Regions from separate parts of the Homo sapiens genome. Here regions 2, 3 and 4 are each linked to region 1. The links come from fine-mapping of genetic effects on gene expression. A gene starts in region 1. Each other region holds a variant in brackets. All regions are shown on one strand. Distances are from middle to middle.

Evidence for each region.
Region 2: its variant is fine-mapped to the expression of CYP2C8 in testis (GTEx, PIP above 0.99).
Region 3: its variant is fine-mapped to the expression of CYP2C8 in testis (GTEx, PIP above 0.99).
Region 4: its variant is fine-mapped to the expression of CYP2C8 in whole blood (TOPMed, PIP above 0.99).

What each region holds. Positions count from the first base shown.
Region 1 is chr10:95,065,519-95,073,866 of GRCh38, forward strand. CYP2C8 (cytochrome P450 family 2 subfamily C member 8) reads right to left here and starts at 3,979. Exons shown (of 9, transcript NM_000770.3): 1 at 3,717-3,979; 2 at 2,011-2,173; 3 at 1,690-1,839. The coding sequence starts at 3,884. RefSeq lists a promoter at 3,884-6,851 and a cis regulatory region at 5,794-5,814.
Region 2 is chr10:95,116,456-95,124,853 of GRCh38, forward strand. It overlaps LOC107984257 (a long non-coding RNA gene), which reads right to left. Exons shown (of 10, transcript XR_007062253.1): 7 at 7,764-8,398; 8 at 1,063-1,153. Among named protein-coding and RNA genes, the nearest start is that of CYP2C8, 51 kb to the left of the region's middle. The variant G/T (reference allele first, on the strand shown) is at 4,988.
Region 3 is chr10:95,164,465-95,172,862 of GRCh38, forward strand. LOC107984257 (a long non-coding RNA gene) reads right to left here. Exons shown (of 10, transcript XR_007062253.1): 4 at 5,817-8,398; 5 at 4,566-4,662; 6 at 3,917-4,004. Among named protein-coding and RNA genes, the nearest start is that of ACSM6, 26 kb to the right of the region's middle. The variant C/T (reference allele first, on the strand shown) is at 4,467.
Region 4 is chr10:95,125,710-95,134,107 of GRCh38, forward strand. It overlaps LOC107984257 (a long non-coding RNA gene), which reads right to left. Exons shown (of 10, transcript XR_007062253.1): 7 at 1-8,398. Among named protein-coding and RNA genes, the nearest start is that of CYP2C8, 60 kb to the left of the region's middle. The variant T/C (reference allele first, on the strand shown) is at 4,538.

The DNA of each region.
Region 1 (8,348 bases):
AGATTTGTTTATCTAAATAAGTAAAATGCTAACTTTTTATTTCAAATCTAAATCCCAGTAAAGCTAACCAAAAAGTAAATTGATAAATGGAATCTTTTTATTTATTTTTTCAATTTGTAAAAAATGAATTTCCTTCCTTTGGAAATAATGTTTATCATTTCCAATCATCTTCCAAATTTAATTCATTTGGGCAAAACTACTCTTGTGGATTCTGGGATATTATTCAGTATAGTCATCAAGATAAGTATGTTTTAATAAAGTTTTAAATTTGACCATAAGTTAGGCCAAATCTGTAATTTTACAGGTAAAGAAATTATTAAAAAGGCTTTTATTCGGTGAAGGAATCTCTAAAATGAAATTGCTGTAACCAAGTGACTAGTGAACATAAATGGAAAGGGTGCCCAAATTCACATCTATAGGTCCTAAATAAGAGTGACACGAAATGAAAGGGTTGTGAATAAAGTTGGAACATTGAACAACAAGAAACCTGCTGAGTTAGCTGCTTCTATGCCAGACTCCTTTAAACATTACAGGGCTCTAAAGTTTCAGAAAAACTGTTGTTTTAGCCAAGGGGGTGAAAGGTAATTTGGGAAGCCTTGGTGAGAGAGAGAGAGAGAGAGAGAGAGAGAGAGAGAGTGTGTGTGTGTGTGTGTGTGTGTGTGTGTGTGTGTTTCTCAGGTACAATCTGATATCCAGGTTTTTTTTTTTTTACTGCATTTGGGAGAGTGAATTTAAAAAGGTAATTTTATATCCCAGCTGATAATCAGATTGATTATAACAAGCACTTCATAGGTGAGTAAATTGGCAGTGGGAGAAAAATGATTAGCACAAATTTCAAAGCTAAGAACCAATACAGGGGAAAAAAGATGACAAAACTGAAAACATAGCCAAATTACATTTAAAGAAGACAGGATAAAGAGTTTTTCATAATAGTTAAAATCTAGTTAAACAAATTATTTACAAATTAGTGTTTGTGTATTTGCTGAGTTATACTATAGATTATATTTACTTAAAATATATTAATTGCTACAGTAAGTAGTGGTTAACAAGAAATAATTAATCCTGACAGTTTTCAAATAGTACTGTGTTTCCCGAGAAATAAGAACTGATGAAAACTGTACTGAGATATACCTAAGCAAGTAAAACCATACATAGTGTCATTGCTGGCCAGAGCTGTAGGCATGGACCTGGAAGGAATTTCCAGACATGTGAGTATGACCATATGAAAAAACTCGAATTAAATGAAAGCACATATAACTTGGTTCATATTTCATGAAGTGTGATGAGGTCACTTTCACCATGTCCACTTTCCAAGTGTTCTCTGGTGAAATGTTCTGGTGGAGGTAATGCAGATTTATGCTATGGGGGAAACCTTCTTTAACTCTTCAAAAATGAACTCAAGACCCTTATTTATAATTTCTGATTTGAAAACAAGGAAACAAAATTGAGCAGAAAATAGGATTAAATGACCTTTTATTCCTACACCCTATGAACCAACACATTTATACAGGCAAAGCACAGATACACAAAACCTCCCTTGTCTCTGTGCTTCAAATCTCCCTCCACCACCTGAGGGCTGACAACCAGGATGCGCAATGAAGACCTGGCCACCCCTGAAATGTTTCCAAGGACGTCACTAGTGAAGACAGGTAACTGTTAAGGTCAATGACGCAGAGTAGAGTCACCCACCCTTGGTTTTTCTCAACTCCTCCACAAGGCAGTGAGCTTCCTCTTGAACACGGTCCTCAATGCTCCTCTTCCCCATCCCAAAATTCCGCAAGGTTGTGAGGGAGAAACGCCGGATCTCCTTCCATCTCTTTCCATTGCTGGAAATGATTCCTAATAAAAAAAGGGGCAGAAACTGGGAGAATTCACAGCCAAGGAAGAAAGTGCTGCAACACTTGGCAGCCATGCAGATAGGCTAAGCTCTGCTGAGAAGCTTTTTAGGGCTCTGTTTTCCATCCCCCTCACCCCAGTTACCAAAGCTGACACAGAAATATGTGCACCTACCAAGTCCTTTAGTAATTCTTTGAGATATTGGGGAATTGCCTCTTCCAGAAAACTCCTCTCCATTATCAATCAGGGCTTCCTTCACTGCCTCATATCCATGAAACACCACTATGGGATTCATGCCAAAATACACGGTGAACACAGGACCATAGACTTTTGAGAACTGGGAAAGGAAATGCAAATAGCAGCAAAATAAGTCGCTATTTGCTCCAAATACTATGTATGATTCAGACTGACATTTTCATTGTATTTTTTAATGTTCATATTTGCCACACATAGATTCGATATTTCTGAATTTTGTACATAAATGTGATGGTGATTGTTATAGCTGCCACTTATAGATGGCCTGTGATGTGCCACGCAATGACCCAGGCAATTGGTACACAAATCACACAGTTCATCCTCACTTCAACACATTCAGCACATTCATTTGACCTGTTTTAAAAATGAAGAAACTGAGGCCAGAGAATTGCAGATTCATTCTCAGAGTCCCACAGGTAATATGTAGAAGCTCCAAACTGGAATCTCTGCTAATTTAAACTGATGCTTGAGCAATTAATCAATCCCCCATGTCCACCTTGAGGCCACTACCCAGCTAAAGACTTCAGGGTCACTTGTAAAGCTCTTAACATGAGGATTCTGATACAGCAGTCCTGTGATGAACCCTAGAAATCTGTATTTACAGTGTCACCCCAGGTGATTCTAATGCCCAGTCCAGTTTGTAACTGCTGGTATTACCAATATGGAACGATGAAGCACCACAAAGTTAGAATCAGGACATTCAGCATCTCCTGGAAGAACAATTTCTTCCATTCTCCAGCAACCTTGGCCACAGACAGTGGCTTTCTTCAGAATCCAAAAGAATTCTGTTAACTACCTATTGGGCCCTGACTGATTACTTCTTTCTTTCATGCACTTATGTTTGCCCTGAACCCACAGATATTTATTTCACATCAGCCATCAAATGAATCTTCAGAGAAGTTCAATTTTCATGACCATTCTGAATAAAACACATGACTACTATAGTAGAGAACTTATTGGATGAAATTTCTAATCACACACACTTCCCTTCACCTTCAGTCAAAAATCATAGCAAAACACTGTGAAACAAAGAGGAGAAACAGCACTTTAAACTTTTGCCACTGTATTAAATGATTATATAATACAATGACCCCAATGTTTCTGTATTCACAAAATGCATCAACTCACTCCGCTATTTCTGACAATGACAGACTTAGAAAGACAAAAGAGGCCAGGTACGGTGGCTCACACATGTAATCCCAGCACTTTGGGAGGCCAAGGCAGGCAGATCATGAGGTCAGGAGACTGAGACCATTCTGGCTAACACGGTGAAACCCTGTCTCTACTAAAACATACAAAAAATTAGCCGGGCATGGTGGAGGGCACCTGTAGTCCCAGTTACTCGGGGGAGGCTGAGGCAGGAGAATGGTGTGAACCTGGGAGGCAGAGCTTGCAGTGAGTGGAGATAGTGCCACTGCACTCCAGCCTGGGCAATAGAGCGAGACTCCGTCTCAAAAAAAAAAAAAATAGGAAGACAAAAGAAACATCAAAGAAGTTCAGAGGGAGTATTTTGCTTTACAATGATCTATTATAATAGTGTGCTTCCAGGAATATATTTTGTCTAAAAATAGCAGTCAAATAACTTACCCTTTGCAATTGGCTGGAGGAACATAAGGCAGACTTACATTGGTGAAAGATTTGCAGATGTCCTTAACATCTATCTGTAGCATATTTCCAATAATAGGAAGAGGAGTGGGGCCAGGAGGGAGCTTCCTTCTCCTACAGCTCTGTCTCCAGAGTGAAAAGAGAAGCATAAAAGAGAGACACAGCACCAGGACCACAAAAGGTTCCATTGAAGCCTTCTCTTCTTATTAAGACAGCTGTGAGCTTGCACTCCAAAGTTTTTATAACACTCCCTGCTAATTTAGTGTGTGTCTCTTTGACATGTAAAGTAAACAATCACCTAGATCCAATTTATACTTTTTTTCTGAGTGGACTTTGGCCCATGGATAGAAATAAAATGTTCTTTTGTCCTACTCCTTCTTTCCAGTGCCAATCTAGGAGATTCTGGTTTAATTGTATTGGATTGGAGCCCAGGTATTTTTAATTAAAAGTCCCTGGTTGTTCCAATGTGCTGTGATGATGGAGAAACACTGAAGTAAATGATTCTATGTTAGAATATACTCAAAATTCAATATTCTCAGATTAATGACCAGTTGGGAATTTATGACCTTGAGGGAAATCAGTGTATTCTATATTTTGTGTATAAAAAATGTACATTGTAATGCTATATCAAAAAATAGGAGACTTAGCCCTTGATAACAAAAGCCTTTCAAATATTTAGTATAGTTCACTTAAAATACAGCTGCCTAAACATGAAATAGTGAATATAACTCATACATGTTGAATTACCATACATATATCAAATTATTAGCTAATAAATGTATATTTATATATATTTAAATGTATATAAACAATATACATAAATATATATGTTATTACATAATAATATTTGTGTTATTATTACATTATTATAATAATAGGTGATTATTTACTTTACATGTCAAAGAGACAAACTGAATTAGCAGGGAGTGTTACATACATTATTACATAATAATAACATAAATACATATTTATACTATTAAATATTATATTAAATATATAAAAGTATATATATAAATGTATATTCATCATTAAAAGAGACTGGAGTATAAAGATTATCATTTTTTATTTTTCAAATTGGGAAAGAAACTCTGGGAGAACAGGACACCTGTCAGTGCCACACAGCTCATTGCCGGTAAAACCGGGATTTGAGCAGAGATCTTCTGATACCCATTGGGGTTCATTACCACTTACACCACAGCTGGCTCAAGAACAATTTTAGAAAAACAAAACAAACCCCAGACATTAGTTACTCTGAAGATACGCCACCTTGACTCTGTTCAGAAAGCAACAGGCTTCACATTAAATAGAAGTCCGTTATTTGTTTATAAGGATAAGAGGACCGGAGACGCTCAAAAGAAGAAATAAAAATTAGAGTTCTCCCCTCTGCATCACCTCACAAGTGAAAGTTGTTCAGCACTATTAAGGAAAGGGCCAATCTCACATAATTTATGGCACAGGGCTTGAAAATCTATGGCTTCTCCACCTTCCAGTCACCTCCAGACATGGCTGCTTCTATTGTTTTTGGTCTGTTATTGTTACAAATAATAGAATGTAATCATACACAGCAAGGAAGAGAAATTATACACAGAACAACAGTTGTGGATTCAACAGAAGATGGAACACAGGGAAATCACTGAATGGACCCAGGGCACAGAACCACTGCAATGTGCAGACCTGAAATGGGAACTGATAGTCAATGGTCATGAAGATCTAAATACAACTGGATTTATGAACATTACTAGATCACTAATAACAAAGTGTGTATACAAAGGCATGCTCTGAAAAGATTACCTTTATTCTAAATTGACCAGTACAGTTATTTCCAGCTCTTTCATTAAGAAAATATTAAGACCCAGTTATACAATGTTTTATCGATTATGTTTATAGACATTATGACAAATTTACAGAGAATTTTCACACTCATCACATCTCTTTTTATTCTCTCAATTATCTTTGCCCACTGTAAAATTATTCCCAGTTTAGAGAGGAGAAAGTTAGACCATGGAGATTCAGTACTTTAGCTAAGGACACACAGAATGCAAGTGACCAAGCTGGGGCTGGAAACCATAACCCCTGCATCTTGCTGCCTTCCTTTTAAGCAAAACATCCAGTTAAACCGGGCCACCAAGATTGACTAAAATTCAATACTTGTGGATTAATCTAATCAGTGACTTTCAAAATAAACATTAATTTAGTTAATAATTCTAGCACCAGTTGAGTAAAATGTGGGTCAGACGTGTTTGGTTTTATAACCTTTAAAAGGTGAGTGAGTCCAGGTCCTGGTGAACCCTTTATCCAGGGCAAAGGGAAGTAGTAATTTGCTGCCTCACTCACGTAGGTATAAGCTAGTTTATTTGGATAAAATAAGTTCACTTTCTCTCTTTAGAGCAATAATTTTATTCCTTGAGAAACAGTTGCCCTTGCTCTGCTCCTTGTTTCTTCTCCTGAGCTGAGGCTCCTGCCTTGACCTTTCTTTTTATAGAATAAAAGGAACATAGATAATTTAAAGACAGACGGGATCTCTGAGATCTACTAATTTAATTTTGCTTTGTTTTTCAGGAATGAGCAATTGGTGACTCAGTGAGTTAGAGCATTATCAATGCACCAGTAAAAGATTTTGTATTAGAATCCCAGTTTTCCTGCTTGGTGGTTCAGTGAAATACCCTATCCTATAGAATTCCCACCTAAGTCCAAATGATCAAGAGTGTATTAGCATTAATTAAGCCCTCTACAGTCACAGATTGACACCCACCTCAGCTTGGATAGGGTTGTGAATTAGAGCGGGGTTTTTTTTTAATTAATAGAATTTATTTTTATAGCAATTTTAGGCTCCGAGCAACAGTTCCCACAAACCCCTTCACCACACCTACAAATAGTCTTTCCCACAATCAACAACCCCCATCAGTGGGGTTCATTAGTTACAGTCAGTGAGCCAACAATAAGACATAATCATCAACCAAAGTTCGAAGTTCACATAGGGTTTACTGTTTGTGTTGTACATTCTATAAATTTGACTGATGTATAATGCCATATATCCACCATCGTAGCATCATACAGAATAGATTTGCTGTCCTAAAAACCCCCCATGCTCTGCGTATTCTCTCCCTTCCATGCAAGTCCTTGGTAACAAGTGAACCACAGTTCACTTTAGTGTTGCCATGGTTTTGCCTTTACTATAAGAGATTGTTATATAGTTGGAATCACACAGTATGTAGCCTTTTCAGGCAGGTTTCCATCACTTATTAATATGCAGAAGGTTTCTCCATGTCGTCTCATGGCTTGAAAGCTCATTTCTTCTTACCACCAAATAGTAATATAATAATATTCCCTTGCATTGATGTACCACAGTTTATCTGTTCATCTAGTGAAGGATATCTTGGTTGCTTCCAATTTTGGCAATAATGAATAAAGATGCTATAAATGTCCTTGTGCAAGTTTTGTGTGGACATATGTTTTCAACTCATTTGGCAAATATCAAGGAGCACAACTGCTGGATCATATGGTAAGCATATTTTAGTTTTGTAAAAGCCACCAAACTCTCTTCCAGAGTGTCTGTGACATTTTGCATTCATATCAGCAATAACTAATAGTTCCCATTGCTTCAAATCCTTGCCAACATTTGGTTTTATCAGTGCCTTAGATGTTCATTATTATAAAGGTATGTGTCATTGTTGTCTTCGTTTGCAGGCCCCTAATTATGTGTAATGTTGAACAGTTTTCATGCTTATTTGACATCTGTTTATCTTCATGGGTGGGGTGTCTGTTCAAATCTTTTGCCCATGTTTCTATTGAGGGTGTCCACTTTTTTGTTGCTGAGCTTTAAGAGTTCTTTGGGTATTTTGGATGACAGTGTTTTATTCTTATAAAGATATATTCTTGTATCTTTTGGAACTATTATTCCTCTTTTAGCTGGACTTCTCCCTCCCTTGATAGTGTCTTTTACAGAGTAAAACTTTTTTTTTGTTTTAACAAAGTTCGGATTATTGATTTGTTCTTTCATGGATTGTGCACTTGTTGTTGTATTTGAAAAACCATTGCCAAGGTCTTCTATATTTTCTCCTATGTTATCTTCTCAGAGTTTTATAGTTTTGTGTTTCACATTTAGTTCTATAAACAATTTGGAGTTAACTTTTGTGAAAAGTGTAAGATTTACATCTAGATTCTTATTTTTGCTAAAACATTTTAAGACAAATGGGACTTAATTAAACTAAAAAGCTTCTGCACAGCAAAGAAATAATTAACAGAGTAAACAGACAACCTACAAAATAGAGTAAAATATTTGCAAACTGTGCATTCAAAAAAGAGCTAATATCCAGAATTTATAAGGAACTCAAACAAGTCAATAAGACAAAACAAATAACCCCATTAAAAACTGGGCAAAGTTCCAATTGTCACAGGATATTGTTGCATTTGTTTTAGAGGTCTTAGTTATGAATTATTTGCCTAGGCCAATGTCAGAATTTTTCCTAGGTTTTCTTCTATGATTTTTATGGTTTTAGGTCTCATATTTGTCTTTAATCCATCTTAAGTTAATTTTGATATGTAGTAAGAATTAGGGGCCCAATTTCATTCTTCTGTTTATGGCGAGCTAATTTTCCCAGCACCATTTATTGAATAGGGTGTCCTTTCCACAGTGTATATCTTTGTTAACT
Region 2 (8,398 bases), 51 kb after region 1:
TTTTTTGAACATTTTAAGACTTGTTTTGGTACATAACATGTGGTCTATTCTTAGAGGAGACTTTATTAAACAAACTTATAGCACATAAGGACCACAATATACAAACCTGAATGGGAGATGGAATTCAGTGAGCATAAGGACCTATGTATCATTAGGATGATATACATTGCTAGATAACTAATGCAATGCTTGTGCAAAGGTATGTACTGTAGAGATATTAACATATTTATTTTAATTTTTTATCATATTTATTTTAAATTGGTCAGCATAATTATTCTAAGCTGTTTTATAAGGAAAAATTGAGTTTTTGTCAAGACTCCACTTACACAATGTTTAACCCTCAGGTTTTCAGGGACTCTGATAATTCACAGAGAATGTTCACTCCCATTATATCACTTTTGATTCTCTCAATTATCTTCACCTATGGTAAAATCATCCCCATTTTAAAGATGAGGATATCAAGACTCAGGGACTTATCATCTGCGCCAAGAACATGGTGTCTGCAAGTTGTAGAGCAGAGGCTAGTACCCATAACCTTTGCACCTCAAAAACTTCTCTCTAAGCAAATTATTCAGTTCAACATTCATGAATGTGTACTGTGATACACCATTTCATTATTTCCTCTAATCAGTGACTTTCAAAATAAACATTGAGTTAATCATTGCAGCACCAGTTGATTAAAAAGGGGGTCAAGAAAGTTTGATTTTGTAACCTTTTGAACTTGCATGAACCCAGGTCTTAGTGAACTTTTTATACTAGAACAAAGATAAGCCGCAATTTGATGCCTGATTCACATTGCTCTAAACTCTGAAAGAAACACACTCCTTTATTATGGTTAAAATGAACACTGGCTGTCTTTAGATCATCTGCTTTATTCCCTAAGAGATGCAGGTCTCTACTCTCCTCTTCCTTCCTATCATAAGACTCCCACCTGTATCATTTTATAAAATGAGAGAATTACAGATAATTAAAGATAGAAGGAACCTCAGCAACCCACTCTTCTAATTCCCTACTTTATCGTTAAGAGTAAGGAACTCATGGCTCAGTGAGGTGATGCGTTACCTATGAATGAGAAGAAGACATTTTTTTCAAATCCAGGTTTCCAATTCCCTGTTCAGTGACTTTTCACATCAATAAGATTTTCCATCATTGCCTAAATGAATGGACAAGATGTCATCAGCATGAAGTGCTCCACAAAAAGAATCATAAACCTTGCTTGACAAGAGGTTTTTTTTTGGTTTAAATTTTATTTTAAGTTCCAGGATACATGTGCAGAACGTCCAGGTGTGTTACATCTGGGTAAACATGTGCCATAGTGGTTTACTGCACATATGAACCCATAACCTATGTATTAAGCCCCACATACATTAGTTTTATTCTGATACTCTCCCTCTCCCCACCGCCCCTGACAGGCTTCAGTGTGTGTTTTTCACTTCTCTGCATCCATATGTTCACATTGTTCTGCTCCCACTTATGAGTGAGAACATGTGTGTTTGTTTTTCTGTTCCTGTGTTAGTGTGCTGAGGATAATGGCTTCCAGCTTCATGCATGTCCCTGCAAAGGACATGATCTCTTTGCTTTTTATGGCTGCATAGTATTCCATGATATATATGTACCACATTTTATTTATCCACCCTATCTTTGATGGGCATTTGGGTTGATTCCATATATTTGCTATTGTGAATAGTGCTGCAGTAAACATATGTGTGCATGTGTCTTTATAATAGAATGATTTATATTCCTTTGGGTATGTGCCCAGTAATGGGATTGCTGGGTCAAATGGTACTTGTGGTTCTAGATCCTTGAGGAATTGCCACACTGTCTTCCACAATAGTTGAACTAATTTACCTTCCCATCAACAGTGTAAAAGCATTCCTATTTCTCCACAGCCTCACCAGCATCTTTGTTTCTTGACTTGATATGAGTGGCATGAGGTGGTATCTCATTGTGGTTTTGATTTGTATTTCTCTAATGATCACTGATGTTGAGCTTTTTTTCATATGTTTGTTGGTTGCATAAATGTCTTCTTTTAGGAAATGTCTGTTTATGTCCTTTGCCCACTTTTGCATGGGTTTTTTTTCTTACAAATTTGTTTAAGTTCCTTGTAAATTCTGGATATTAGACCTTTGTCAGATGGGTATATTGCAAAAATTTTCTCCCATACTGTATGTTGCCTTTTGCTGTGCAGAAGCTCTTTACTTTCATTAGATTCTATTTGTCAATTTTTGCTTTTGTTGCAATTGCTTTCGGTCATTGCATTATAAAATGTTTCTCCATGCCTATGTCCTGAATGGTGTTACCTAAATTTTTTTCTAGGGTTTTTATAGTTTTGGGTTTTACATTTAAGTCTTTAATCCATCTTGAGTTAATTTTTGTACAGGGTCTAAAAATGGAATCCAATTTCAATTTTCTGCATATAGCTAGCCAGTTCTCTCAGCACCATTTATTAAATATGGAATACTTTACCCTTTGCTTGCTTTTGTCAGGTTTGTTGAAGATCAGATGGTTGTAGATGTGTGGTCTTATTTCTGAGATCTCTATTCTGTTCCATTGGTCTATATGTCTGTTTTGGTACCAGTGCCATGCTGTTTTGGTTAATATAGCCTTGTAATATAGTTTGAAGTCAGGTAGTGTGATGCCTTCAGCTTTGTTCTTTTTGTTTAGGATTGTCTTGGTTATACAGGCTCTTTTTTGGTTCCATATGAATTTTAAATTCGATTTTTCTAATTTTGTGAAGAATGTCAATAATAGTTTGATGGGAATAGCATTAAATCTATAAATCATTTTGAGCAGTATGGCCATTTTCATGACATTAATTCTTCCGATCCATGAAAATGAAGTGTTTTTCTGTTTCTATGTTTCCTATCTTATTTCCTTGAGCAGTGGTTTGTAGTTCTCCTTGAAGAGGCACTTCACATACCCTTTTAGCTCTATTCCTAGGTATTTTATTCTCTCTGTAGTAATTGTGAATGACAGTTCATTCATGATTTGTTGCTCTGCTTGTCTACTGTTGGTGTATGGGAATGCTTGTGATTTTTGCACGTTGATTTTGTATAATGAGACTTTGCTGAAGTTGCTTATCAGTTTAAGGAGCTTTTGGGCTGAGTCTGAGGATTATGTTGTTCAATTTCCATGTAGTTGTATGGTCTTGAGTACTAATTCGATTGCACTGTGGTCTGAGAAACTGTTAGAATTTCAGTTCTTTTGCATTTGCTGAGGAGTGTTTTACTTCCAATTATATGATCAATTTTAGAGTAAGTGCCATGTGACACTGAGAACAATGTATATTCTGTTGTCTTGGGGTGGAGAGTTCTGTAGACACCTATCAGGCCCACTTGATCCAGAGCTTCCAGAGCTCAGTTCAAGTCCTAAATATCATTAATTTTCTGTCTCAATCTGTCTAATATTGACAGCAGGGTATTAAAGTCTCCCACTTTTATTGTATGGGAATCTAAGCCTCTTTGTGGGTCTCTAAGAACTTGTTTTGTGAATCTGGTTGCTCCTGTATCAGGTGCATATATATTTAGGATAATTATGTTTTCTTGTTGAATTAATCTATTACAATTATGTAATGCCCTTTGTCTTTTTTTCTTCATTGGTTTAAAGTCTGTTTTGTCAGAAACTAGGATTGCAACCCTTGCTCTTTTTTCTGCTTTCCATTTGCTTTGTAAATTTTTCTCCATCATTTTATTTTGAGCCTGTGTGTGTTTTTGCATGTGAGATGGGTCTCTTGAATACAGCACACCAATGAGTCTTGACCCTATCCAATTTGCCAGTCTGTGTCTTTTAATTGGAGCATTTAGCCCATTTACATTTAAAGTTAATATTGTTATGTGTGAATTTGATCCTATCATGATTCTAGCTGGTTATTTTGCACACTAGTTAATGCAGTTTTTTTATAGTGTAATTGGTCTTTGTATTTCAGTGTGTTTTTGTAGTGGCTGGTACCAATTTTTTCTTTCCATGTTTAGTGCTTCCTTCAGGAGCTCTTGCAAGGTAAGCCTGGTGGTGATAAATTCCCTCAGCATTTGCTGTCTGAAGAGGATTTTATTTCTCCTTTGCTTATAAAGCTTAGTTTGACTGGATATGAAATTCTTGGTTGAAAATTCTTTTCTTTAAGAATGTTGCATTTTAGCTGCCACTCTCTTCTGGCTTGTAGGGTTTCTGCTGAGATGCCCACTATTAGTCTGATGGGCTTTCCTTTGTAGGTGACCTGGCCTTTCTCTCTGGCTGCACTTAACATTTTTTCCTTCATTTCAATCTTGGAAAGTCTGATAATTATGTGTCTTGGGGCTGATCTTCTCATGGAGTATCTTACTGTGGTCCCCTGTATTTCCTGAATTTGAATGTTTACCTCTCTTGATAGGTTGGGGAGGTTCTCCTGGATGATATCCTGAAGTGTGTTTTTTAACTTGGTTCCATTCGCCCCGTCTCTTTTAGGTACTCCAATCAGTTGTAGGTTCAGTCTTTTTACATAGTCTCATAGTTCTTGGAGGTTTTGTTCATTCCTTTTCATTCTTTTTTCTCTAATCTTGTCTGTCTGCCTTAATTCAGCAAGATAGTCTTCAAGCTCTGATATTTTTTCTTCCATTTGATCAATTCAGCTATTGATACTTGTTTTTGCATTATGAAGTTCTTGCGCTTTATTTTTCAGCTCCATCAGGTCATTTATCTTTCTCTCTAAACTGGTTATTCTAGTTAACAGCTCCTATAACCTTTTATTATGTTTCTTAGCTTCTTTGCATCGGCTTAGAACATGCTCCTTTACCTCAGTAAAGTTTGTTACCACCCACCTTCTAAAGCCTACTTCTGTCAATTTGTCCATCTCAACCCCTGTCCAGATCTGTGCCTTTGCTGGGGAGGTGTTTCAATCATTTGGAGAAGAGGCACTCTGGCTTTTTGAGTTTTCAGCATTTTTTCATTGATTCTTTCTCATGTTCATGAGTTTGTCCAGTTTTGATCTTTGAGGCTGCTGATCTTTGGATGA[G/T]GTTTTTGTGGGGACTTTTTTGTTGATGCTGTTGTTGTTGCTTTCTGTTTGTTTTTCTTTCGATAGTTAGGTCCCTTTTCTATAAGCCTGCAGCAGTTTGCTGGGGGTCCATTTCCTGCCATATTCATCTGGGTCTCTCCAGCACATGGTGATGTGACACAAGGAGGCTGGAGAACAGCAAAGATGGGTGCCTATTCCTTCCTCTGGTATGTCTGACATCAAGGGGCATCAACCTGATGTCAGTAGACACACTCCAGTATAGGATGTCTGGTGACCCCTGTTGTGGTGTCTCAGCCAGTTGGGGTGAATGGGAACCAGGACCTGCTTAATGAAGCACTTTGATTGTCCCTTTGTGGAGGGGGTGTGCTGTGCTGTGGGAAAACCTATTCATCTGGGCTGGTTCATTCTCATCTCATGCAGATTCTTCAGAGCTAGGAGGGGGAAAGAATAAATATACTGGTCTGTGGAGACCATAGCCACCACTCCCTTTAGAGACTCAGGCCCAGGGATATCAGAGCTATGTCCGTAAGCCCCTGGCTGTAGTTGCTGGAGTTCCTACAGGGAAGCCCTGCCCACTGAGGAGGGATGGGTCAGGGTCCAGCCTAAAAAGGCAGTCTGGATAAGGTTTGCACAGCTGGTGTGCTTCATTGTGAGGAAATACTTTTTGGAACCAAGCCAGTCTCCTCAGCTCCAGCAGGAAAAAAACATGGCCTGAGCTATAGTGATGGTTGCTGCAATCCCCCGCAAGGAGTTCAGTGTCTTAGGCAGCTAGCAGCCACAGTGGTGGCTGCCATGTCTCCCCCAGGGAGTTCAGTTTTCTTAGGCAGGCAGTAGCTGCATTGATGGCTGCCACCCCTCCCCCAGGGAGTTCAAATGGCTTAGACAACAGGGAGCTGCAGTGATGATGGCTGCCCCTCCTTCTGGGAACTTGGTAATCTTAGGCAGATTCCAGCTGAGTTGCTGTTGAGAATCTGTGTAGTTCTATGGTTGAGACCCAAGGCCCTGGTAGTGTGGGATCACAAGTGGGGTCTTCTGAACTGTGGGTTATACAGACCAATGGAAAAAGCACTGTTTCACAGGCTGGGTAGCTTGCTCACTCACCACTTCCCTTCGTTGGGAGTTGGGGTTCTCCTTGCCCCATGTAGCTCTCAGGTGGGGCAACCCACCACCCTGCTTTTCCTGGCTCTCCATGGGTGATGCCAACTGCTTAGTCAATTCTGATGATAGAACCTGGATACCTTGGTTGCTGATGCAAGATTCTCATGCTGTTTTTATTCTTCTGGTTGGGAGCCTCTGACTGCCATTGTTTCTATTTGGACATCTTGGCTCCACCCCCTGTCAAGTTGTTTATTTTTAAATAACCATTTCCATTGAAGAATAAAATACATAGAGATTGTTGCATATGTCCTAAATATATGGCTCAATGAATTATCGCAAAGCAAATATATCTGTTTAGCCAACAAACAGGCCAAGAAAAAAATAATCCCAGGACCACAGAAGCTCCCTTATGCTTCCTGTTAATACTTGTGGTTGCATTATGAAATTTTTGTGTGTATATCTCAGCTCTATCAGATCATGTTGGTTCTTTTTTTTATAGTGGATATTTTGTCCATCAGTTTCTGTATTATTTTATTGTAATCCTTATATTCTTTGGATTGGGTGTTGACTGTATCCTGAATCTCAATGATGTTTATTCCTATCCATATTATAAATTGTATATGTGTCAATTCAGCCATTTCAGCCTGGTTAAGAACCCTTGCTGAGAATTAGTGTGGTTGTTTGGAGAAAAAAAAGATACTCTGGCTTTTTGAATTTCCAGAGTTTTTGGAAACTCTGGTTCTTTCTCATCTGTGTGGGCTGGTATTCCTTTAACTGCAGTGTAAATTGAGCACAGTCAGTAGACTTCTTTTCTGAATGTTTTAACAGGGCCAATGCTTTGTGCAGAGTCTTATTTGCAGCTGAAAATTTGTCCTTGGATTCACAGGGGGTATTTTAGCAAAGTATTTTTGGTGTTGAAGTTTTGGACTGTGACCCCTTGATGGAACTGAAGTGTGATCGTCAGTAGGCAGATTCTTGCTTGGCCACATGGCTTCTCTGTATTTCCTCATGATTGCAGCCATGCTCCCTCTCACTGCTCTAAAAGTGTGGGCTTCTCTCCCAATTGAGAGTTTAATATGAAAGCAACAATTTTTTTTTGAGAAAAACTTATATTCCCTGCTTGACTTGCCATTAAGGAATAATTTTAGGTCTAGGTCATCTTTTATAATTTGTGATATGATTGGGAGAAATACATTATTCTGTGGCTAGAGTAACTTTAGTGTTAACCTTGGCTAAATCTCTCCTGCAATTATTAATTCTTTCAAGACTTCCACATACCATCTAGAAAATGCTTAAACTTTCTCACTTGTCCTAAACATGCCGCTTTTTAAACAATCAGTTATTCTCTTTAGGACAAGAATTTACCTCCCCTAAAATATCCTTTCTTATATAAAATCTCTTTCCTTTATAACCTTCTTTGCATAGCTATGGTGGCCAAACTCAATAAAAAATTCTAGCAGACTCAGTGATAGTAAAAGTTTTGTGCTTCCTTTTTGTTGGTAAATATTATCTCTGCTATAAGGATAATAATTAAGCAAAATACTACAACAATAGAAACTGTCTGATTTTCTAGTTAGAAGGTGCTACAGTATATAGTCACACTGCAAATAGTAGAGCAAGTACAGCAATTCCTGAAAGTGTGGTGTAGTAGATAATTTACATTTAAAATTTTACTCACCAAGACATAACATTTCCCTTTGGGTGTCTATGAAGTTACAAATGCAATTTCATGAATAATTAAAAATCTCCCTGCAAGTATGCATCAAAATATGTTTTAAAACCTGGTAGTGACTCTCAAGAGGAAAAGTAGAAATGACTAAATGTATCTGGTAAGGTAAACATGGGACTAAGTAGGATGAGTAGCCCTTACTCATTTACTTATCTTTTATGATTTTCAGCTTGAAATCTCCTAGTTCTTCACATTAATCTCCAGGACATTCCTCTAGGTTGTCAGGGGTTGCTCTCTTGGTTTTCCAGGCTTTGACTTTAGTATGATGTATCCAGGAGCTGATATCTGTAACTTCTACTGTGGAGGGGATTGAAAGAAGAGCAATTCAGGGCCCTTCCTAGATTAGGCATAGGGAAGTAGAGAGGGAAGGGAGAGCTTTTACCAACACCAAATCTTCTGAGTTAAATAAAGGTGGTCCTGTTTCTTGCGGTTGGGCTTCTGCTAGTTGAGTTAATTTTCACAGTAAAGCCATGGGAAGAATAGTGACCCAAGGAAGGTGGGTTTCATGAGACAGTTTCCTGAGATGTCTTTTGATGATATCACTTGTCTTCTCTACCTTTCCTGAGGACTGAGGTCTCCAAGCA
Region 3 (8,398 bases), 99 kb after region 1:
AAAAGTCCTAGAAGAAAACCTAGGCAATACCATTCAGGACATAGGCATGGACAAGGACTTCATGTCTAAGACACCAAAAGCAATGGCAACAAAAGCCAAAATTGACAAATGGGATCTAATTAAATTAAAGAGTTTCTGCACAGCAAAAGAAACTACCATCAGAGTGAACAGGCAACCTAAAGAATAGGAGAAAAATTTTGCAATCTACTCATCTGACAAAGGGCTAATATTCAGAACCTACAAAGAACCTAAACAAATTTACAAGAAAAAAACAACCCCATCAAAAAGTGGGCATATGAACAGACACTTCTCAAAAGAAGACGTTTATGCAGCCAAAAGACACATGAAAAAATGCTCATCATCACTGGCCATCAGAGAAATGCAAATCAAAACCACAGTGAGATACCATCTCACACCAGTTAGAATGGCAATCATTAAAAAGTCAGGAAACAACAGGTGCTGGAGAGGATGTGGAGAAATAGGAACACTTTTACACTGTTGGTGGGACTGTAAACTAGTTCAACCATTGTGGAAGTCAGTGTGGTGATTCCTCAAGGATCTAGAACTAGAAATACCATTTGACCCAGCCATCCCATTACTGGGTATATACCCAAAGTATTATAAATCATGCTGCTATAAAGACACATGCACATGTATGTTTATTGCAGTACTATTCACAATAGCAAAGAATTGGAACCAACCCAAGCCCATCAGTGATAGAATGGATTAAGAAAATGTGGCACATATACAACATGGAATACTATGCAGCCATAAAAAATGATGAGTTCGTGTCCTTTATAGGGACATGGATGAAGCTGGAAACCAGCATTCTGAGCAAACTATCTCAAGGACAGAAAACCAAACACCGTGTGTTCTCACTCATAGGTGGGAATTGAACAATGAGAACGCTTGGACACAGGATGGGGTACATCACACACCAGAGCCTGTCATGGGGTGGGGGGAGGGATAGCATTAGAAGATATACCTAATGTAAATGACGAGTTAATGGGTGCAGCACACCAACATGGCACATGTATACATATGTAACAAACCAGCACGTTGTGCACATGTACCCTAGAACTTATGGTATAATAATAAAAAATAAAAAAAATAAATACACAAATAAATAAAATAAATAAATAAGTGGGTAAATCTCTGTTCGAGGCTCTCAGCTCTGAAGGCTGTGAGACTCCTGATTTCCCACTCCACACCTCAAAAAAAAAAAAAAAACAGAACCAATGACAAAAACCACATGGTTATCTCAACAGATGCAGAAAAGGCCTTCAATAAAATTCAACACCACTTCATGCTAAAAACTCTCAATAAGCTGGGTATTGATGGAACATATCTCAAAATAATATGAGTTATTTATGACAAACCCACAGCCAATATCATACAGAATGGGTAAAAACTGGAAGCATTCCCTTTGAAAATCAGCACAAGACAAGGATGTCCTCTCTCATCACTCCTATTCAACATAGTATTGGAAGTTCTCTCCAGGGCAATCGGCCAAGAGAAAGCAATACAGGATATTGAAATAAGAAGAGAGGAAGTCAAATTGTCCCTGTTTGCAGATGACATGACTGTGTATTTAGAAAATCCCATCGTTACAGCCCAAAACCTCCTTAAGCTGATAAACAGCTTCAGCAAAGTCTCAGGAAACAAAATCAATGTGCAAAAATCACAAGCATTCCTATACACCAAACAGAGAGCCAAATCATGAGTCAACTCCCATTCACAATTGCTACTAAGAGAACAAAATACTTAGGAATACAACTTACAAGGGATGTGAAGGACCTCTTCAAGAAGATCTACAAACCACTGCTCAAGGAAATAAGAGAGGACACAAACAAACGGAAAAACATTCCATGTTCATGGATAGAATCAATATCGTGAAAATGGCCATACTGTCCAATGTAATTTATAGATTCAATGCCATCCCCATCAAGCTACCACTGCCTTTCTTCACAGAACTGGAAAAAACTACTTTAAACTTCATATGGAACCAAAAAACGGCCCGCATATCCAACACAATCATGGGCAAGAAGAACAAAGCTGGAGGCATCATTCTACCTGACTTCAAACTATACTACAAGGCTACAGTAACCAAAACAGCATGGTACCAAAACAGATATATACACCAATGGAACAGAACAGAGGCCTCAGAAATAACACCACACAGCTACAACCATCTGATCTTTGACAAACCTGACACACACAAGCAATGGGGAAGGGATGCCCTATTTAATAAATGGTGTTGGGAAAACTGGCTAGCCATATGCACAAAACTGAAACTGGACCCCTTCCTTACACCTTTTACAAAAATCAACTCAAGATGGATCAAAGACTTAAACGTAAGACCTAGGACCATAAAAATCCTAGAAGAAAACCTGGGCAATACCATTCAGGACATAGGCATGGGAAAAGACTTCATGTCTAAAACACCAAAAGCAATGGCAACAAAAGCCAAAATTGACAAATGGAATCTAATTAAACTAAAGAGCTTTTGCTATGCAAAAGCAAATATCACCAGAGTGAACGGGCAACCTACAGAATGGGAGAAAAATTTTGCAATCTACTCATCTGACAAAGGGCTAATATTCAGAATCTACAAAGAACCTAAACAAATTTACAAGAAAAAAACAACCCCATCAAAAAGTTGGCAAAGGATATGAACAGACATTTCTCAAAAGAAGACATTTATGCAGCCAAAAGACACATGAAAAAATGCTCATCATCACTGGCCATCAGAGAAATGCAATTCAAAACCACAATGAGATACCATCTCAAACCAGTTAGAATGGTGATCATTAAATAATCAGGAAACAACAGGTGCTGGAGAGGATGTGGAGAAATAGGAACACTTTTACACTGTTGGTGGGAATGTAAATTAGTTCAACCATTGTGGAAGACAGTGCAGCGATTCCTCAAGGATCTAGAACCAGAAATACCATTTGACCCAGCAACCCCATTACTGGGCATATACCCAAAGGATTATAAATCATTCTATGATAAAGACACATGCACACGTATGTTTATTGCAGCACTATTCACAATAGCAAAGACTTGGAACCAACCCAAATGCCCATCAATGATAGACTGAAGAAAATGTGGCACATATAGACCATGGAATACTATGCAGTCATAAAAAAGGATGAGTTCATGTCCTTTGCAGGGACATGGATGAAGCTGGAAACCATCATTCTCAGCAAACTATCACAAGATCAGAAAACCAAACACTGCATGTTCTCACTCGTAAGTGGGGGTTGAACAATGAGAACACATTGACACAAGGAGGGGAACATCACACCCCAGGGCCTGTTGGGGGGTGGGGAGCTAGGGGAGGGATAACGTTAGGAAAAATACCTAATGTAGGTGACAGGTTGATGGGTGCAGCAAACCACCATGGCAGGTGTATACCTATGTAACAAAACTGCACATTCTGCGCAGGTAACCCAGAACTTACAGTGTAATAATAAAAATAAAATTGATATCACCAGCAAAAAAAAAAGTTCCTAGAAATTCATCAAACCATGTGGCACAAAACTCAAATGACATTTCACTTTGTTTTGATTTGTTTTGTTTGAGACAAGGTGTCACTCTGTCACCCAGGCTGAAGTGCGGTGGGGTGATCTGGGCTCACTGCAGGCTCTAACTCCTGGGCCCAAGTGATTCTCTCAACTCAGTCTCTCCAGTATCTGAGGCTACAGGCAGGCGCCACTAGGCCCAACTAATTTTTTTATGAAATTTTTTGCAAAGATGTCCAGGCTGGTCTTGAACTCCTGGACTCAAATGATCTGCCTACCTCAGCCCTCCAAAGTGCTGGGATTACAGGCTTGAACTGTGTAATTTCACGTGGCATGACACAGCACAATGATGAAAAGGAAGAAACCCTGTGGGTCCAGCGTATACTCACATGGGTGGATTGATGGCTGGGAAACCCAAGCAGGAGGAGCCAAAACAGCAGCCACTGGACCCGCATGTCCTGGTTTTCTCAGGGCCCCCTGAGGAGGCCAGGACAGAGGTGAGGGTGGTTTAGGGCTAAGGGAGGAAAGGGGATGGGGACTGGGGGTGGGACTGCAGTTGGGGAGGGGGAGGGGAGGGAAAGGGATTGGGAGGGGAGGGAAGGCAAGGGGGACTGTGGGGGGCCTGGAGGAGCAGGGCGGTGGGGGGCTGGAGAAGAAGGAGGAGGAAGAAAAAGAAGGAACCCTGGGAAAGGATCCAGTTAAAACTAAGTCTTCAAGTGCTGGTGGAAGGTTCAGCTATAGGTCAGTGAAAAAGTCTATCAGCAAAACAGCAGGAGGAGTGGGGCAGGGGAGCAGGAGGCTCAGGAGCAGTTGGAGGGAGACCAGGGCTCTGGTTTCTACCAAACCTTCTCCTGTCTGGGCGCTACCTTAGCAACCCTGGGGCTTTATACTTCCTCTCCACCAATCCTCGGTCCTGGTACCATAGTGCCTCACAGTGGG[C/T]ATTCCATGTGATGTCCACATTCTTCCAACACCCCCTCCCCCACCTGAACCCCTGATGCGCCATCCCAAAGACAGGTCCTCTCTGGAAACTTCGCAGACCTTCTGACTTCTCATCCTCCCCAACCAGCTCCCTGTCCCTGCTTCTGGGCTGATCTTTCCTTCCTGAGCTCCAAGTGTTCCTCATGGTCAGTCTTGGCTGCAAAACATGAAAAACAAATGATGGCAGGATGGCAGGAAGAACCTCATACACAAGCAGAGTGGGAGGCTCCACAGCCCCCTCTCAGCAATTCATATACTAAGCAACAAAACATCAGTAGGATGTAGAAGGTCCAAATAGTAAACCATCTCCATCACATTCATGTAGTCATCTATCCATCACCCTTGTATCTTGGGAATAAATGTTGGCGATATATTCATTTTAAGCACATATGGTACATTTACAAAAATTAACCTGACTTATTTTGTTCATCAAGCAAATCTCAATATATTTCAGAGGAATCAAATCACGTTTCTGATCATATAATTGTGCTAGAAGTCAACGATAAAAAGCTAACCAAAAATTCTTATATGCTTGGAAATTCAATGTGCCCTTATAAGTAAGATATAAACATAAGGAAGAACCCAAAATGAAACAAGACTGCCTTTGCACTCAATGATAGAATCATAATATGGCAATAAAACATCTCCCTCTGGCCTGGGAATTCCACTTTGTGGCACAAGGTTGTGTGGTCCCAAATCATTTCTAACCCACCTAGACATTTTAACATCTGAAATGGGGTGATGATGTCACTTATCTATGTCATCTTACTGCCTGTGACCATGGGCTTTAAATTTTGAACCCTAATGAGGGGAGGAAAACCAAGTTGACTCTCATGATTGACTTCCCAGGTATGACCAAGGAATCTGTGCATTTCAAGTGACGAAGTTCATCAGCTTCTCTCCTGGGAGATTTGGCCACAATACCCAGAGGGCCAGGCAGCACCAGGAGTAATGGGTGGGGAGTACCAAGCAATTGGGCAGGACCTAGGGGCCCGGTGACCAGGACAGACCCCCACTGGCCATCACCTTTCCTGGTCCTGTCTTCAGCTAAACCTCCCAAAGGCCTTCTTCTGCCTGATTGCACAGAGTGTGCCCAAACTCACCCAGGCTTCTAGCAGCTTAAAACCACTTCTTTAAATCCCTTTACCATTTATTATGACATAAAGTTATTATAAACAGGAAATATTCCATTGAGGCTACAAATAGAAAGCCAATGCCTTTACCATAAATGGAAAGAAATCCTAAGAAACAAGCATGACAAAAACAAAACACAGATAACAAAACAATGAAATTATATTTGTATACTGTCACCTGCATAAAGACCCCCAGTTTCAGTTGTCTTGCTTGTAAAAGGAGAGACCAAGAGGGGGTTGAAGTCAGATCTGCACAAAAGTGAACGGCACAGATTACCATAATGTCCGTGAAGGGTTGCTGGGGTCACCTTGATTATAGCCCAAGTAGACATAAGGAAAGGAGGGCAATATGAGCAGAGTTTGGGGCCTCAAACAGGGTAGGTTATTTATGCAGCCCAGGAAAGGCTCCCCAAAGCCAGTGTCAACCTCACAGGCAGGTCCCTCATGGAGGCAAGGCCAAGCACCTTGGATTTGAGACCAGCTGTGCTGCTGACCAGCTGTGTGACCCTGGGCTGGTTTCCTTCCATACAATGGGAGTGCCAATGGCTACATGCAAAGACTGTCTGAGGACAGGAGGAAGAAATCTGTTGAGCACCTGTGTACCTGAGTGTCAGCACCTCCCAAGGGCATCTGTCCTTCCAGAGCTGGCACCCTGGAAAGTTCTCAGATGCTAAAGGCAGTCATGATGATAACAGCAGTAAATCATCATTTACTGCTGATGAGGGAGGGCCAGTGGGCAGGACTCCTAGGTTCTGGATAGGAATGAAAGTCTGGGCACGCCTGGGGACAGCTGAGTGAGTCCTGTATCAGCAGTACAGGCAGGCACAGAGGCAGTAGATTCATCAGAGGTGGCAGGTGTGGGATGGTCTGATAAGCAAGCATAGTCACCAAGCTGGCTGACCACTGCCCCCTCACAGAAGATGCCCTGTCCCTTGCCTCACATTCCAGCAGGGCAGAGGCTGGCACCTGGGGCCTCACAGAGCATCCCTCTGAGACTTCTGTGTCCTGGCCAAAAAATGGGCACTTGCGTCACCCAGCACTGACAGAACAAGGAGGAAGAATCAGGACCCAGGATGTTTTGGGGAAGTGTTTAGCACAGAAAAATGCTCAGAATACAAACACGACACAGGGGAACTGTTCATGTGGGAGCCAATATTTTATAACCTACAGCCCTAATCTGAGCACTCTCACCTGTGCAATCTGAAAGAAACAGGGGACTTGCAGGAAGGATAGTGCCTGGATTTAACTTGAAGTAAAATGTTGGAATTTTCACACTCCTGATATCCTTCCAAATCAACTCTTTCAATGCTCCCATCCTCACCACTATCATGTGGGGTAACTGAGGCAGTCAGGGATTTACTGACTCAATGTCATTCAGTCATTTCTGAGTTCACTGCTGACTACATCTGACCAAACTTGAAGTTCCCGTTTAATCTTGCCAGTGACGGTTTTTGGCAGCTCTGGGACAAACTCCACCTGGCTGAAGATAAAGCAAATCTGTGGTGACTTAGTCCTGCTGTCATTTCCTACCAATCCCCTACTCTCCTCCTCTGCCCCTCCACAGTCTCCCACACAGGCTAACACCATATGGTGGCCTTAATGGTGTCCACTGAGTATTTCAGCTTCTCCACGTGGGCCGTTTAAGTTGGGTGTAGCCATGTGATTTGCTTTGACCCAAAAGTGAGTGGAAGCGAAGCATGTCACCTTGAGGCAGAAGAGTTGGGAGCCATTGAGACTGGACACCCTCTTCTCTATCTCCGAGAGCACCTGACAGGTTCCACATGGAGGCTGCTCCTTTACCCTGGCAGCAGGATAAGAAGATGTGGTGCACAGGGCCCAGGAGAGCCATGATGGACGTGCAGCATGAGCAGGAAAACAACCTCCATTGTTTAAGACTGTTTGTGACCCACAGTGGTATCTAGCCCATCCTAGTATGCATGCACCATCTATTCCACACTCTGTTAAGCAGACTAGCCTACCATCAGAACATGAACTGCTCGTCAGACACACATAGGTTTCAGTTACAGCTCTTCCTCTTATTGACTGCAACCTCAGGCATTTAACTTTCAATCTCTGAGCCTGTTTCACCTCTGTAACATGAGTTGGCTATACTATCTCACATTGTGGAGAGGATTAAATAAAATAAAAATGCACACAGAGCACTGAGCCCAGGGCCTGGCACACACAGTGAGTACTCAATCAACGTTAACCATGTAACTTCATAATGTGTATTGACTGTCAATATTTAGACAATGCCGCAAAGTACTACAAAAAAGGAAATGTTAACTATTTTTCAAATGTATTCTTCCAAACTTTATTTTCAAACAGATAGGATGAAACTATGTAAATTCTTTCATAGCCAGTGTTTTTCTCTTAATAGTATATTGCTAAAATATTTTTATCTCAAAAATAAGATTGTGTTTAAGATTATCATTTTAAATTACAAGTAATGCTCAATTTAATGAATAATTTAATTATTACTATTGAACTTTTTGTAGATTGCACACAGCATTTAAAACAAATGAAAGAGAATTAAAAATAAGAATGTATTACATGTTATAAAATAACTATGTTTTGTTAATTCTATTATTCATATAAGCACATATATATGCAATATGGAAGGTATTTTTATTGTAATGTTTAAAAATAGTTTAGAAGCTGCTTATTTGGATTTCCCTTTTTGAATTTTGCAGGATTATAACTTTTTAAGTACTGTTGGGCACTTGTCTGGTTGTTTTTCTTTAGCTTAACATGCCAGCA
Region 4 (8,398 bases), 60 kb after region 1:
ATACTTGATGTGAGTGTAAATGTTAGCTACCTTTCCCTTACTTAATTCAAGTGCTCTTATAAGGGCTTTCAGTTCAACTAGTTGAGTGCTTAGGCCTGAAGCAAGAGATGCACTTTCAATTGCATAATTCAGAGTGATTATTGCATATCCCACCTTATGGACTCCTTGCTCCACAAAGGAGTTTCCATCCATAAAGAGGGTCCGGTCTGGATTTTCTAGGAAAGTTTCTCTGAGATCCTCCCTGGCTGCATAGGTCTGTACCACAACCTGTTTAAGTCATGCTCAGGTTTCCCTGTTTCCTCAGGGAGAAAAGTGGCTGGGTTTAGGCAAGAGCAAGTTTTTACCTGGATGGTGGAACCCTCTAACAAGACAGCTTGATATTTAAGGAGCTGGCTATCTGTTAGCTAAATGTTCCCTGGAGGAGAGTAATCCTGCCACATTATGTGGGGTGTAAACAGTTAAATCCTTTCCCAGGATTAATTTGGAGGCTTCTGGGACCAGTAGGGCCACCATGGCAATATCTCAGAGGCATGCTGGCTATCCTTTAGCCACCAAATTAAATTTCTCACTCAGATAAATCTCTGGCTGTTGAGCTGTCCTCAGGCATGCATTAAAACTCCCAGGGCCATTCCCTTCCTTTCTGATACATACAGATTGAAGGCCCTATGAAAAGACTGAGGGTTGGTGCCTTAAGCAAGCCTTGTTGTAACTGGTTAAAGGCCTTTTGAGCTTCAGGTTCCCAGATTAAGAGAGGAGTTTTAGCCACTTGAGTTTCTTTATGAGGTGATATAGAGGATAAGCTATCTCACCATACCCAGGTATCCATAGCCTGCAAAATCCTGTAATGCCCAAAAATCTTCTTAGTTGCTTTAGGGTTTTGAGGAGGGAAAAGGAAAAAATGGGCTTAATCCTTTCTTCCCCTAATGCTCTGGTCCCTTCAGACAGAACTACATCCAAGTACTTCACTGAGATTTTGCAAAGCTGGGCCTTATATTTTGAAACCTTATATCTTCTGTTAGTTAATAAATTAAGAACTTCAGTGCTTTCCTGGGAAGCTTCCTCAGGTGGGGCACAGAGTGGTATATCATCCACATATTGCAAGACCCTGACCTGAGGATGGAAAACCTCAGAGAGGTCTTTTGATAGAGCCTGTCCAAACAAAAGAGGATTGTCTCAAAATCCCTAAGCAGCGCTATCCATGTTAACTGGGCAATTTGGCCAGAGGGATCTTCAAAGACAAGCAGGTATTGAGAGTCAGGATGTGATGGTATACAGAAAAGGCATCCTTTAAACCTAGGACTGCAAATCATTTAGTTCCCTGAGGTATTTGGGTCAGCACAGTATTAGGGAATAGGTATTACTGGATAAATTGGGACTACCACCTCATTAATGAGGCAGAGGTCCTGAAGTAGTCTCCATTCCCCATTGGGATTTTGCCTTCCTAATATTGGGGTGTTGCAGGGGCTGTTACAGTGTTTGAAAAGGTCCTGCATCTTCAGGTTTTTAATAATGGCTTCTAGCCCTTTCCTAGCCTCTGGCTTTAGGGGGTATTGTCTTTGGTTGGGAAAATAAGTGGGATCATTAAGATGGATCTGGACTGGCCTAGTGGTTACTGCTCAACCTACTCTTCCTTGTTGCTCACACTTCTGGATTGATATTAGCTTCTACCAGGGGGAGACAAAGAGTTTGTCCCCCATGTGAACCAAAATGTCTCTACCTAATAAAGGAGTGGGACTTTCAGGTGTGATTGAAAAGGCATGTGTAACTAATAGGTTCCCCCCAACTGCAACTAAGGGGTTAAGAAAAATAACAGATTAGAGTTTTTTCTGAGGTGCCCCTCACAGTTATGGGAAGATGGGAGGCCTGGATTAGAAAGAAGAAGAGAGAGGCTTGCTGTAGTGTCCAGAAGGAGGTCTACCTTTCTTCCTTCAATTTCCAGAATCACCTGGGGCTCCTGTGCTGTAGTGGCATTTGAGCTCCTGGAGCCAGAGGTTTGAGCCCCAGGACATATCAGCCCAGTTGGATCACCTGTGAGATTGGTTCTGAACCCAGTGACCTTTATCTCCAGGGACAATCCAATTTCCAGTGATCCCCATCACATTCTGGACAGGGTCATGGTGGTTTCTTCTTGCTGCCTGGGCACTCCTTAAAGTGCCCTGACTTGCTGCACTGATAGCAACTAATGGATGCACCTCAGGGATTCTGGACTTTGCAAGTTTGCAAAGCAGTTACTAGAGCCTCTGTTCTTCTCTTTTACTTCCTCTCTTTCTCCTGGACCTCCTTCTGGTCCCTATAATAAAAGACAATGGTGGCCACCCTCAGGAGGTTCTTCAAGGTGCTATCTGGTCCTATAACCTGCCTCTGTAGTTTCCTTCTAATATCAGGATCTTCCTGTGTAATAAACTTGTCCTTCAGGATGAGCTGTCCCTCAACTGAATTGGGGAATAAGGAGGTGTGTTTTATTAGTGCCTGTCTGTCTTTCCATAAAGGCTGTGGGATTCTCATCTGGCTTTTGGTCTATCATAGACAGTTTGGAGTAATTAAGATCTTTGGCCCTAATTCTTTCTAGGCCCTCCAATATGCACATTAGAAACTGTTTTCTTTTTCATTCATCTGTGGTGTCACTGAAGTTCCAATTAAGGTTGTCAAGAGGTATTGCCCCTCTTCTTATTGGGAATGGCTTTTCCCCTATTTCTTCACCTTCCCTATTTATTTTCTCTTTTCCTTTTTGGCCTACTATAGAAGACATACTGCTCATCTCGTAATTTCTCTGTTGCCTGCAGAGCTTCCTGCTTTTCACTGTGGTTAGGGTTTGGATTAGGAGCAGCATAACATCCCTCCACAAGAGGTCAAACACCTGAGTTAGGTTTTGGAAAGCTTCTATATACCTAACAGTGTCATAAAAAATCTGCCTAAGTCTCCCTTTATTTGCCTAAGGTCCTGCAATAAGAAGGGAGCTTGAACCCTTGTGGCATCACCTCTGTTGGGCATTACCTGTAGGCATAAGTGTGAAGGTGCAGAAATGGGGAGTTTTTAAGGTGGTGGGGGTAGAGCACCTGGTGGTGCAGTGGGAGGTTGCCCCAGGTAAGGGGGATTGGAAGGGCTGTAACACTCAATAGATGATTTCTCCATGATATGGTTTGGCTGTGTCCCCACCCAAATCTCATCCTGAATTCCCAGGTGTTATGAGAGGGACCTGGTGAAAGGTAATTGAATCATAGGGTCAGGTGTTTCCTGTGCTGTTCTTGTGATAGTGAATAAGTCTCACGAGATCTGATGGTTTTAAAAATGGGAGTTTCTCTGCACAAGCCTTTTTGGCCTGTTGCTCCTCCTAGCCTTCTTCCATGATTGTGAGGCCTCCCCCACCACGTGGAACTGTAATTCCATTAAAATCTCTTTTTCTTCCCAGTCTCAAGTATGTCTTTATCAGCAGTGTGAAAATGGACTAATTCAGTAAATTAGTACCAGTAGAGTGGGGCACTACAGAAAAGATACCCCAAAATGTGAAAGCAACTTTGAAACTGGGTAACAGGCAGAGGTTAGAACAGTTTGGAGGACTCAGAAGAAGACAGGAAAATGTGGGAAAGTTTGAAACCTTCCAGAGACTTGTTGAATGGCTTTAACAAAAATGCTGATAGTGATATGAACAATAAGGCCCAGGCTGAGGTAGTCTCAGATGGAGATAAACTTCTTGGGAACTGGAACAAAGGTGACTCTTGTTATGTTTTAGCAAAGAGACTGGCAGCTTTTTGCCTCTACCCTAGATATTCATGAAACTTTGAACCTGAGAGAGAGAATTTAAGTTATCTGGCAAAAGAAATTTCTAAGCAGCAAAGCATTCAAGAGGTGACTTGGGTGCTGTTAAAGGCATTAAGTTTTAAAAGGGAAATAGAGCATAAAAGTTCAGAAAATTTGTAGCCTGACAATGCAATAGAAAAGAAAATCCTATTTTCTGAGGAGAAATCCAATCCAGCAGCATAAATTTACATAAGTAATGAGAAGTCAAAAGTTAATCCCCAAAACAATGGGGAAAATGTCTCTAGAGCATTTCAGAGGCCTTCACAGCAGCCCTTCTTGACACAAGTCCAGAGTCCTACAAAGAAAAAGTGGTTTTGTGGGCTGGGCTTGAGGTCCCCATGCTTTATGCAGCTTAGGGACTGGTGCCCTGCATCCTGGCCACTACAGCCATGGCTGAATGGGACCAATAAAGAACTCAAGCTGTGGCTTCAGAGGGTGTAAGCCTCAAGCCTTGTCCACATTATGTTGAGCCTGCCAGTGCACAGAAGTCAAGAACTGGAGTTTGGGAACCTCCACCTAAATTTCAGAAGATGTATGGAAATGCTTGGATGTCCAGGCAGAAGTTTGCTGCAGAGATGGGGCTGTCATGGAGAACCTCTGCTAGGGCAGTGCAGAAGACAAATGTAGGGTTGGAGCCCCCAAACAGTATCCCTACTGGGGCACTGCCTAGTGGAGCTGTGAGAAGAGGGCCACTGTCCTTCAGACCCTAGAGTGGTAGATTCACCAACAGCTTGCACCA[T/C]GCACCTGGAAAATTCATGGTCACTCAACTTCAGCCAATTAAGGCAGCCAGAAAGGAGGCTTTACTCTGCAAAGACACATGGGTGGAGCTGACCAAGATCTTGTGAACCCACTTCTTGCATCAGTGTGACCTGGATGTGAGACATGGAGTCAAAGGAGATCATTTTGAAGCTTTAAGATTTGATTGCCCCACTGGACTTCAGACTTCCCCGCAGCCTGAAGCCCATTTGTTTAGGTCAATGTTTCCCATTTGGAATGGCTGTATTTATGAAATGCCTGTACCCCCATTGTATCTAGGAAGTAACTAACTTGCTTTCAATTTTACAGGCTCATAGGCAGAAGGGACTTGCCTTGTTTTAGATGAGACTTCAGACTTTGGACTATGTACTTTTGAGTTAATGTTAAAATGAGTTAAGACTCTGGGGGACTGTTGGGAAGGCATCATTGGTTTTGAAATGTTAGGACAGGAGATTTGGGAGGGACCAGTGGTGGAATTATATGGTTCGGCTGTGTCCCCACACAAATTTCATCTTGAATTCACATGTATTGTGGGAGGGACCTGCTGGGAGGTAATTGAATCATGGGGGCAGGTTGTTCCTGTGCTGTTCTTGTCATAGTGAATAAGTGTCATGAGATCTGATAGTTTTAAAAAGAGGAATTTCCCTGCACATGTTCTTCTCTTTGCCTGACACCATCCATGTAAGATATGACTTGCTCCTCCTTGCCTTCCACCATGATTGTGAGGTCTCCCAAGCCATGTGAAACTGTGAGTCCAATTAAACCTCTTTCTTTCTTTTGTAAATTGCCTAGTCTTGGGTATATCATCTTTATCAGCAGTGTGAAAAACAGACTAATACACTCTGGAAGTTGCTTTTCTAGTCTTGGGGAATCATTCCCTTTGGGCCTTCCTGATATGATTGCTAGAAGGGCTGGGTGAATTGTGCAATGCTTGCAAAGGTCTGGGTTTTCTCATAGGGCAAAGAAATCTTGTATATAATGGACCTTGGGCCATTTTCCCTCCCATATGGAGAAAAGATCTAATTCTTGGACACAATTTAAATTAAAGCTTCCTTCCACAGTTTAGGCTGTTTCAAGTGGGTAAGAAGGCCACACCTTTGTGGGAAAAAAAAAGCCACTTTTCTTCATATCTCAGGGTAAAAAGAGTCCCAGTGTTTTCAAATGCACTCCAGAGGACTACAGGCCGAAGATGATCTGTTACTCATCTAGAAATGGAAGCATGAAAAAGATGTCCCTTTAGTCTCCTTCCTATTGGTGTGACCTAGGGTGGAGGGGAAGACAGTGGTGGCATGCTCCACCTACTGATTTCCCTCCTTGGCTCCTGAGTACCAGCACCTTATTTAATGTGCTGCCCATGGCTGCATTCTTGCAACCCTGCAGCCATTTAAAAATACAGGACCAGAGGAACTAAGCAATTGAGATTAGTCATGCTTACCCATGTGACTCTAGTCCTCCACTTGTGATTTCCCTTTGACTTCCTAGACTTATGTGGCCTCTGTGGCTCCTAGAAGGATGGATCTTGGGAAAAACTATAATATTTGCATTTGAGCAAGGCTCCTTTAATGGATAGTGCATGCTAGATTGAACTCTATATCCTGCTTATTATGGCCCATGTTAAAGCGTTTACCCTTAGAGAATGGTTCCAATTAACTTCCAAACTTGAAATCCCCTTGCTGATTGCCATTCTAACTGGTGTGAGATGGTATCTCACTGTGGTTTTGGTTTGCATTTCTCTGATGGCCAGTGATGATGAGCATTTTTTCATGTGTCTGTTGGCTGCATAAATGTCTTCTTTTGAGAAGTGTCTGTTCGTATCCTTTGCCCACTTGTTGATGGGGTTGTTTGTTTTTTTTCTTGTAAATTTGTTTGAGTTCTCTGTAGATCCTGGATATTAGCCCTTTGTCAGACAAGAGGGTTGCAAAAATTTTCTCCCATTCTGTAGGTTGCCTGTTCACTCTGATGGTAGTTTCTTTTGCTGTGCAGAAAGGATCTAGAACTAGAAATATCATTTGACCCAGCCATTCCACTACTGGGCGTATACCCAAAGGATTATAAATTATGCTGCTATAAAGGCACATGCACACGTATATTTACAATAGCAAAGACTTGGAACAAACCCAAATGTCCATCAATGATAGACTGGAGTAAGAAAATGTGGCACATAGACACCATGGAATACTATGCAGCCATAAAAAAGGATGAGTTCATGTCCTTTGTAGTGACATGGATGAAGCTGGAAACCATCATTCTCAGCAAACTATCAATCACAAGAACAAAAAACCCAACACCACATGTTCTCAGTCATAGGTGGGAATTGAACAGTGAGAACACTTGGAACAGGAAGGGGAACATCACACACTGGGGCCTGTCATGGGGTGGGGGTAGGGGAGAGGGATAGCATTAGGAAATATACCTAATGTAAATGACGAGTTAATGGGTGCAGCACACCAACATGGCACATGTATACATATGTAACAAACCTGCACGTTGTGCACATGTACCCTAGAATTTAAAGTATAATTAATTTAATTAAAAAAGAAAAAGAAAAAAAATCCCCTTACTATTTCAGTACCATTTTAATTGGAGGCAGAATAGGTGCCTTAAAAGAACATAGGGACCAAATGGCAGTTTTCTAGTTGATGGGACAGTATCGAAACTAAACAACTTTGTCTTTGGAGGACATTTTACTCCTAATTGTTGTTGAAGGCAGAGTTTTCCTGTTCACAGAAGCAGCATGAAGCCTGGTCTCTAGCAGAGGGGCACAAAAAGGGAGGAGAATTTGGAGGCTAGAGTGTTTTGGCAGAGGACCAACAATGTGCTTCATGGAGAGAATTCCCATCCCACTAGGTGGCGCTGTTGACCTTGAAATGCCATGTGATCTCTAGACTAAGGGCACAGGGTGACCATGACATGTCATGTGCTCTCCATACCAAGGGCAGAGAGTGAACTTCAAATGCCATGTGCTCTCCAGACAAGGGTAGAGTGTTACCTGGAAATGCCATATGCTCTCCAGACCAAGGGCAGAGAGTGACTTCACTGTGATGAGGGACCCTCTATTCCTAGAAAATTACAACGGCATTCCCTTGAGCTACACCTTCAGTTACTATGGCATTTCCTGATCTTACCTAACAAGATTACTTCCCTGAACTGTAAAATTGCTGTGGCATTGCATACAAAGAGAGAGAGGATGGGAGACATGGTGGTTGCAGACAGGAATGGAGGAAATTATAGTATGAAAGCTGGAGATCCTGTTGCTGACACTCTGTCAGGCAGTCAGAGGATGAGGTCAGTCCAAATCCTTTGAACAACACCAGGGAGTAGCTTCCGCCAGAAATCCTCAGTTGCTTCAGAACTTTTTCCAGCCCCATTCAATTGCTAGGTCCTCTGAAAGAAAACTGGTTCAAACATGGCCAATATGCCCAGCAACGTGTGGGTACTGGGGGATTCTACATGTTTTCCCCAGCAAGCCTCTCCCCCATGTCTTGTAAAGCTGGCAGCCATGCTAATTATTTTTAAATGACTGAAGGGAGCCCAGTATTTGGTATGATTTGATTCTAAAATGGAGGCTGAGAGCCTTGAAATGAAAGGACAGAGTTGAGTTTCACTCCTGTATTCAACATTCCAATGAAAGTACCTTGGGATCCTGGACACACCCCCAGTATGAAGATGCATTGTTGTCTAAGGTAAATACCTGAGGTTCATCGTCTTGCAACAAGAAGTCTAAGGGCATGGACACACACAAGGAGTGAGTTTAGGAGTAGAAGTTTTATTTCCAAAGAAAGAGAAAGGAGAATAGCTCTCTCTCTTGTGAGAGAGGGGGCGTCCAAATAAGAATTCTGCCCCA